Linked DNA regions of Homo sapiens: regions 1 and 2 are each linked to region 3. Evidence: fine-mapped expression QTL. A gene starts in region 3. Each other region holds a variant in brackets. All regions are shown on one strand. Distances are from middle to middle.

What was found. PIP is the estimated chance that this variant, and not a neighbour inherited with it, causes the effect. A credible set is the group of variants that fine-mapping cannot tell apart.
Region 1: its variant is the best candidate, but not a certain one, in a credible set for the expression of ALDH9A1 in whole blood (TOPMed, PIP 0.73).
Region 2: its variant is the best candidate, but not a certain one, in a credible set for the expression of ALDH9A1 in whole blood (TOPMed, PIP 0.64).

What each region holds. Positions count from the first base shown.
Region 1 is chr1:165,784,577-165,787,348 of GRCh38, forward strand. No RefSeq gene overlaps it. Among named protein-coding and RNA genes, the nearest start is that of TMCO1-AS1, 17 kb to the left of the region's middle. The variant T/C (reference allele first, on the strand shown) is at 1,207.
Region 2 is chr1:165,580,659-165,583,430 of GRCh38, forward strand. LRRC52-AS1 (LRRC52 antisense RNA 1) reads right to left here and starts at 1,497. Exons shown (of 7, transcript NR_026744.2): 1 at 697-1,497. It also overlaps the pseudogene RPS2P10. The variant C/T (reference allele first, on the strand shown) is at 1,508.
Region 3 is chr1:165,697,014-165,699,785 of GRCh38, forward strand. ALDH9A1 (aldehyde dehydrogenase 9 family member A1) reads right to left here and starts at 1,549. Exons shown (of 11, transcript NM_000696.4): 1 at 1,365-1,549. The coding sequence starts at 1,545. It also overlaps the pseudogene CA14P1. RefSeq lists enhancers at 1,285-1,514, 1,358-1,940, 1,805-1,984 and a silencer at 1,545-1,734.

The DNA of each region.
Region 1 (2,772 bases), 88 kb after region 3:
GGAGAATTGAGAGATATTTTTAGATACAGATTTATTTTATTTTATTTTATTTTATTTTTTTGAGATGGTATCTCACTCTGTTGCCCAGGTTGGAGTGCAGTGGTGTAATCTCAGCTCACTGCAACCTCCACTTCCTAGGTTCAAACTATTGTCCCACCTCAGCTTCCCGAGTAGCTGGGATTACAGGCATGCGCCACCATATCCAGCTAGTTTTTGTATTTTTAGTGGAGATGGGGTTTCACCATGTTGGCCAGGCTGGTCATGAACTGCCGACCTCTGATGATCTGCCCACCTCGGCCTCCCAAAATGTTGGGATTACAGGTGTGAGCCACTGCGCCCAGCCTAGATACAGAATTTCAGTTGAAGAAGATAAGTTCTAGAGATGGATGGTGGTAATGGTTGTACAGCAGTGTGCATGTACTGAATGTCTCTGAACTATATACTTAAAAATGTTTAAAATGGTAAACCTGATATATATATGTTAAAGAAATGTTTAAAGTTGGCCCATATCTGGAGGATACAGATCATCAGAATATCTTAATCATTGCTGGTGGGAGTGTAAATTGGTATAGCGCTTTTGGAACAATTTGGCGTTATCCTGTAAAGATAAACATTTCCATGCCCTTTGACCTGCCATTTTGCTCCTAGGCATATACATAAAAGAAACTTTGTTTTTTTTTTTGAGACAGAGTTTGCTCTGTTGTCCAGGCTCAAGTAAAGTGGCACAATCACAGCTCACTGCATCCTTGATCTTCTGGCCTCCAGCTATCCTCCCACTTCACCCTGCTAGTAGCTGGGACTACAGGTGCATGCCACCATGCCCAGCAAATTTTTTTTTGTTTTTTTTTGGTAGAGGCAGGGTTTCACTATTGTATTAGTTCATTTTTACGCTGCTGATAAAAACATAACCGAAACTAAAACCAAAAAGAGGTTTAATTGGACTTACAGTTCCACGTGGCTGGGGAGGCCTCAGAATCTTGGTGGGAGGCAAAAAGCACTTCTTTTTTTTTTTTTTTTTTTTTTTTTTGAGACGGAGTCTCACTCTGTCACCAGGCTGGAGTGCAGTGGCGTGATCTCGGCTCACTGCAACCTCTGCCTCCTGGGTTCAAGTGATTCTTCTGCCTCAACCTTCCAAGTAGCTGGGACAACAGGCGCACGCCATCATGCCCAACTAATTTTTGTATTTTTAGTAGAGATGGGGTTTCA[T/C]CATGATGGCCAGGCTGGTCTCCATCTCCTGACCTTGTGATCTGCCCACCTTGGCCTCCCAAAGTGCTGGGATTACAGGCCTGAGCCACCAGGCCTGGTCAAAGGCATTTCTTAATGGCAGTGGCAAGAGATAAATGAGGAAGAAGTAAAAGCGGAAACACCTGATAAAACCATCAGATCTCGTGAGATTTACTATCACGAGAATAGCACAGAAAAGACCAGCCCCCATGATTCAGTTACCTCCCCTTGGGTCCCTCCCACGACACGGGGGAATTCTGGGAGATACAATTCAAGTTGAGATTTGGGTGGGGACACAGCCAAACCATATCAACTATCTTGTCCAAGCTGGTCTTGAACTCCTGGGCTCAAGCGATCATCCTGCCTCAGCCTCCCAAAGTGCTGGGATTATAGGAATAAGCCACTGCCCCCAGTTCAAAAAAACTTTTTAACGAGTATCAGGTCATGCATACAAGAGTGTTCATGTGAGCACTCTTTTTAATACCAAAACCTGAAAACAACCCAAATGCCCATTAACAGGCAAGGGAATAGACAAATTAATTAGAAGCTCCTGGAGGACAGGGACCACCTCTACAAAAAATAAAAAATCAGTACCTTCCCCATCTCACACAGTGTCCCAGGACCCTGCAGGGCAGTGGAGGTGCACCCATAAATAAATAAGGATATATTTATATCCACTCCAAGTGAATGTACCATAATTATATGCCATAATGTGGATTAATCCTAGCAATATAGTATTAAGTGAAAAGCATATGTCCTTAAAGATTACATATAAAGTTAATAACATCTAAACACTCCCTCCCCCCAAAAAAACCCCACTCTTTTTGAATATATTTACATGTGACATTAAAAGGGAAAACAGAATGATTTCAGTAGTGTTACCTTGGAATGGGGAAGAGGCTGGGTGATACAACTGAAGATCAAACAGGTGAATATGAATGGAAATTCATTTCCTAGTTTTCATGTTGGTGATAATGTCAAGTGTATTTGTTGTATTATTTTAAATGAATGAATGAATGAATGAAGGATTGAGGGTCTTGAATGCACCAACAATGAGAATGTGTCATGAGTCGAGAATAATGATGTATCTAATTCTATGCATCTGTGCATCTGAAGGGGCCTTAGAAAATGCATTCTGTATCTGTTTGATATAAATAAGGGGAAGATGGTGGGGGGGGGAGTGATGTTTTAAATTACTCAGCATCAAATAAAATGGATACTCTGGAAAAATGTGTCACATTTCTCCTGTGGTTTCTAGTACCCTCTGACCAATTGCCACTTTTGCCTGGGCATTTAAGCATCCCAATTTTAGGAGACTGGTGATAGTGGAAAGTCAGTGAAACATCTTAAGCTTGCATAAGAATTTTGCAAAACAAGCAGTGTTTCTTTTTTAAAAAAAAAATTAGTCTGGAAGCCTTATATCAGATAGATTCATTTGGGAGAGAGATCACATTCAGGGAAACCAACTATTAGGCTGTCACTATAACACAATTTTTAGTGAGGAATCCCTTGACCAAGTAAGTAGTATCAGCAGAAATTAAGAAGAAA
Region 2 (2,772 bases), 120 kb before region 3:
TTTGGAGTGAGGCAGACTCCAATGGAAAGCCCAGTTCTCCTTCTTCCTAGCAGAGACTTTAGGGAAATTACTTAAACCCACTGAACGTCAGGGTCCTCATCTGTAAAATCCTCATAGGATGGTTGGGAGGGTGATCAGGTAGGAACCATGGCTTTCTCTAAGCTGCCTTTTATTTGCTGACTTTTGAGAGGGGACGTCTTACTCAGGCACAGTCACATGTGCCTGTAGCCCTAGCTACTTTGGAGGCCAAGGCAGGAGGATAGTTTGAGTCCAGGAGTTCAAGACTGCAGTGTGCTGTAACTGTGCCTATGAATAGCCACTGCTTAGGCAACACAGTGAAACCCCATCTCTAAAAGAAAAAAAAAAAAAGACCAGACATCTTAGAAAGATTCTTCAAATCCTAACCCTAGTTAGACATTAGACATTGAATGCCTCTCCTAGACTTGACTAATGGAGAAAAAATGCCTTTAAGTGTTTCATCTGTTTCATCTTACTCATTCCTCAGAACATTCTGCTGACATCAACAGCCTCCAGGCCTTTGCACATGCATGTCTTTCTTTATGAAATACACACACACATGCACACATGTCTCTACACCCTGCTTATTCTATAAATCCATATTCATCCTTCAACTTCTTGCTCAAGTATCACTTCTATTTTAAAATTTCCCAGACACCACAGCCTGCCCCAACTCACCCATTCTCACTGCAGTGACGGCTCCCAGAACCTGAACAAACCACAAGTCTGATCTTGCCGCACTGTGATGACTGATCTTCTGGTTTCTCCCCAACAACCATGGGTTCCCCAAAAAGCAATACTTTGTAACCCTAGCACTTGCTATCATGCCTAATGTCTAGCAAGTACGCACAATTTGTTGCGTTAATATATTCCACATGTAGCTTCTTCTCCGAGAAAACACCAAATGGCGGATGACGCCGGCGCAGCCGGCATTGGGTTGCGGGGGGAGTCCCGGAGGCCCCGGGGCCCTGGGATGGGGAACCATGGTGGCTTCCGTGGAGGTTTCGGCAGTGGCATCCGAGGCCGGGGTCACTGCCGTGGACCAGGCTGGGGCCGAAGCCACGGAGCTCGCGGAGGCAAGGCCAAGGATAAGGAGTGGATGCCCGTCAGCAAGCTGGGCTGCCTGGTCAAGCACATGAAGATCACTTCCCTGGAGGAGATCTGTCTCTTCTCCCTGCCCATCACGGAATCTGAGATCATTGATTTTTTCCTGGGGGGCCTCTCTCGAGGCCTAGGTTTTGAAGATTATGCCGGTGCAGAAGCAGACCGGAGCCGGCCAGCGAACCAGGTTCAAGGCGTTTGTGGCCATTGCGGGCTACAACGGTCACGTCGGTCTGGGTGTTAAGTGCTCCAAGGAGGTGGCCACTGCCATCCACAGGGCCATCATCCTGGCCTAGCTCTCCATTGTCCCCATGCGCAGAGGTTACTAGGGGAACAAGATCGGCAAGCCCTACACCATCCGTTGCAAGGTGACGGGCTGCTGCGGCTC[C/T]GTGCTCGTGCGCCTCATCCGCGTGCCCAGAGGCACCGGTATCGTCTCGGCGCCTGTGCCCAAGAAGTTGCTCATGATGGCTGGTATCGATGACTGCTACACCTCAGCCAGGGGCTGCACTGCCACTCTGAGCAACTTCGCCAAGGCCACCTTTGATGCCATCTCTAAGACCTACAGCTACCTGACCCCTGACCTCTGGAGGACGGCTGTATTCACCAAGTGTCCCTATCAAGAATTCACTGACCACCTCGCCAAGACCCACACCAGAGTCTCCGTGCAGAGGACCCAGGCTCCAGCTGTAGCTACAACATAGGGTTTTTATACAAGAAAAAGAAAGTTAATTAAGCCTGTAAAATATACATACATATATGTGTGTGTATATATACATATTATATATGTATATATGTGTGTGTATATACATTATATATATGTATATATGTGTGTATATATACATATATACGTATATATGTGTGTATATATACATATATACGTATATATGTGTGTATATATACATATATACGTATATGTGTCTATATACATATATACGTATATGTGTGTGTATACATATATACGTATGTATGTGTGTATACATATATACGTATGTGTGTGTATACATATATACGTATGTATGTGTGTATACATCTATACGTATGTATGTGTGTGTATACATCTATACGTATGTATGTGTGTATACATATATACGTGTATACGTATACACATATGTATATGTGTATACATATACACATATATGTGTATGTATGTGTATACATATACACATATATGTGTATGTATGTGTATACATATACACATATATGTGTATGTATGTGTATACATATACACATATATGTGTATGTATGTGTATACATATACACATATATGTGTATGTATGTGTATACATATACACATATATGTGTATGTATGTGTATACATATACACATATATGTGTATGTATGTGTATACATATACACATATATGTGTATGTATGTGTATATGTATGTATATATACACATATACATACATGCATGTATATATGTATGTATATGTATACATATATACATACATTGTATATACGTATACATATACACACATATATGTATATACGTATACATATACACACATATATGTATATACGTATACATATACACACATACATACATATATACACATACATACATATATACACATACATACATACATATATGTATATGTGTATATATACATATATGTGTATATATTCCAACTGTAAAATATACATATATGTGTGT
Region 3 (2,772 bases):
GCAAATCAGTTTTATTGCTCTGGCTACATTTTACACAAAATATTTACATTTTTCTCCCCACATATATTCCATAAAACCCAGCAAAATAAACACAACACAAAACCAAAACAAAAAGCCCCTTCTTCCTTATCTCTGTGACCTTCAGAGTTCCCAGAGTAAATCCAGTGCCTAGCACAGTGCTTAGCACACATTAAGCACTGGATTAAAAAGTTTTATTTCAGCAAGATGAATAAATTGTGGAGAGCTCACGTAGACCATGGTGACTATGGTTACCAATACTGCATCATATACTTGAAATTTGCTAAAAGAATAGATCTTAAATATTTCACTATCCAAAAAAAGCCATTAACTATGCAGAAGCAATGGATAATTAGATTGACCGTGGTAACCATTTTGCAAGGTATACATACATTACAACACGTTTTACACCTTAAGTATATACAATTTTTATTTGTTAATTATACTTCAATAAAGCTGGGGAAGAAAGTACTGAATAAAGGTGGGGTTTTTTCCTTTCCCAATTCTGATTAATGTGCAGAAATATTTTAATATTAGAATGTGGAGACAAAGTCCTCATTCGTAGTCATTAGAAACTATCTGTGAGCGTTCCTTCATTCCCAGCACAAATGATTATCTTCCCCACAACCCCGCCCCGTTCTTTTAGAATTCCTCTCCTATGCACACATTTGAAGACAATAATACATCAGTCCTGGTTTTAAAAGGGGGAACAGTTGGCTGGGCTTGGTGGCTCACGGCTGTAATCCCAGCACTTTGGGAGGCTGAGGCGGGAGGATCACCTAAGCTCAGGAGTTCGAGACCAGCCTGAGTAACATGCTGAAAACCCGTCTCTACTAAAAATACAAAAATTAGCCGGACATGGTGGTGGGAGCCTGTAATCCCAGCTACCAGGGAGGCTGAGGCGGGAGAAGCACTTGAGCCCGTAAGGTAGAGGGCGCAGTGAGCTCTGAGATGGTGCCCCTGCACTCCAGCCTGGGCGACAGAGTGAGACCCTGTCTCAAAACAAACAAAAAACAAACAAACAAACAAAACAAACAAAAAAGGAAGTTAACAGAGGCACGACTTCCCCCACCAGTACTTTGCGAACTCTGTTCTGGCCCGGGTAAAACAACTCACGATCCTACCACGCAACTCATCAGCTTTGCTTTTCCTCCCTACCCATCCCTGCCCGGAGGCACTCGCGTTGCCCCAGAATCGCTAGTTGCCTACACACACAACCTTAGACTCTCCACTGTCACTGTCTTGTGCTCAAGTCAACGCTGCAGAACACAGGAAACGGGGGCTGGCCGGGAAATCCGCGCATCCGGCCCCAGGGCGCCCCAGCCTCCCCGGCTCGTTGCAGTTACCGGTTGCTGGCTCGAAAGCTTTCTCGGTACCGGAGGCGTCCGCCGGCTCCACGCGGGCCCCGCCGCGGTAATTGAGCGGCTGCGACACGACGAAGGTGCCAGTGCTCATGGCGGCGACAGGAGAGGGCCGAAGACTGCGAAGAAGCGGGGAGAGCGCGGCCAGGCCTGCTCGGAGAAACATGAGTGGCGGACGCAGCTCCGCGGCAGAGGCTGACGGGCCGCGGGAGGGGCGGGGCCGCGGGAGGGGCGGGGCCGCGGGATCGGTTCTAGGAGATTTTAGGGGCAGTCACTCGATTCCTCTGCGGTCCAGGCCAGGCCCTCCCCTCGCCAGGAGGGTGGAGCAAGACACCACATTCTCCCCACCACCCCGCCATACCCCACACAGTCTCCAGGCGGGAAGAGGACTTCCTTCTTCGTGATCAATATTTGCGTAGCACTTTGCAAGTGTTTTCGGGTTCATCATTGCATGTAAGCATCCTAGGATCCCATTCTTAATCCTATCGCCTGAAGAAGGCAGAGGATTGGAGTGCCAAGAGTCTTTGGTGGTTACTTCACTGCTAAACCACCGTTTCTGTAATTGTATAATGCTTTTTAAAGGGTGACAGTAAAAAGCAAGGGGACTGTGAACGAGATAGATGATATTGTGATCTGAAACTGCTTTTTAAATTCTTAAAGAGAGACTGGGCGCTGTGGCTCTCACCAAGGCTGGAGGATCGCTTGAGCCCAGGAGTTTGCGGGCAACAGAGAGAGATCCCGTGTCTATAAAAAAATAAAATAAAAATAATAAAAATTGGGCCGGGCGCGGTGGCTCACGCCTGTAATCCTAGCACTTTGGGAGGCCAAGGCGGGCAGATCACCTGAGGTCAGGAGTTCGAGACCAGCCTGACCAAAATGGTAAAACCCCGTCTCTACTAAAAATACAAAAATTAGCTGGGTGTGGTGGCGGGCGCCTGTAATCCCAGCTACTTGGGAGGCTGAGGTGGGAAAATCGCTTGAACCCGGGAGACGGGTTGCAGTGAGCCGAGACTATGCCATTGCACTCCAGTCTGGGTGACAAGAGTGAAACTCAGAAAAAAAAAAAATTATCCAGGTGTGGTGGCACACGCCTGTGGCCCCAGGTACTTGGGCGGCTAAGGTGGGAGGATCCCCTGAGCCCCGGGGGTCCAAGCTTGCAGTGAGCTATAATCGTGCCACTGCACTCAGGCCTGGGCAACAGAGCGAGACCCTGTCTCAAAATAAATAAATTCTGAAGGAGCAATGTAAATGCTATTAATGACAAATATTGATAGAAACAGAAGCCTAACATACAGAATACGAAGAGCAAAGGCCACAGGAAAAAGTGTCAGGAAACAAAATGCCTTCTGTAAGACAAAGCAGCCACCCAGAGGCACTCACAGGTCTGTCAGCT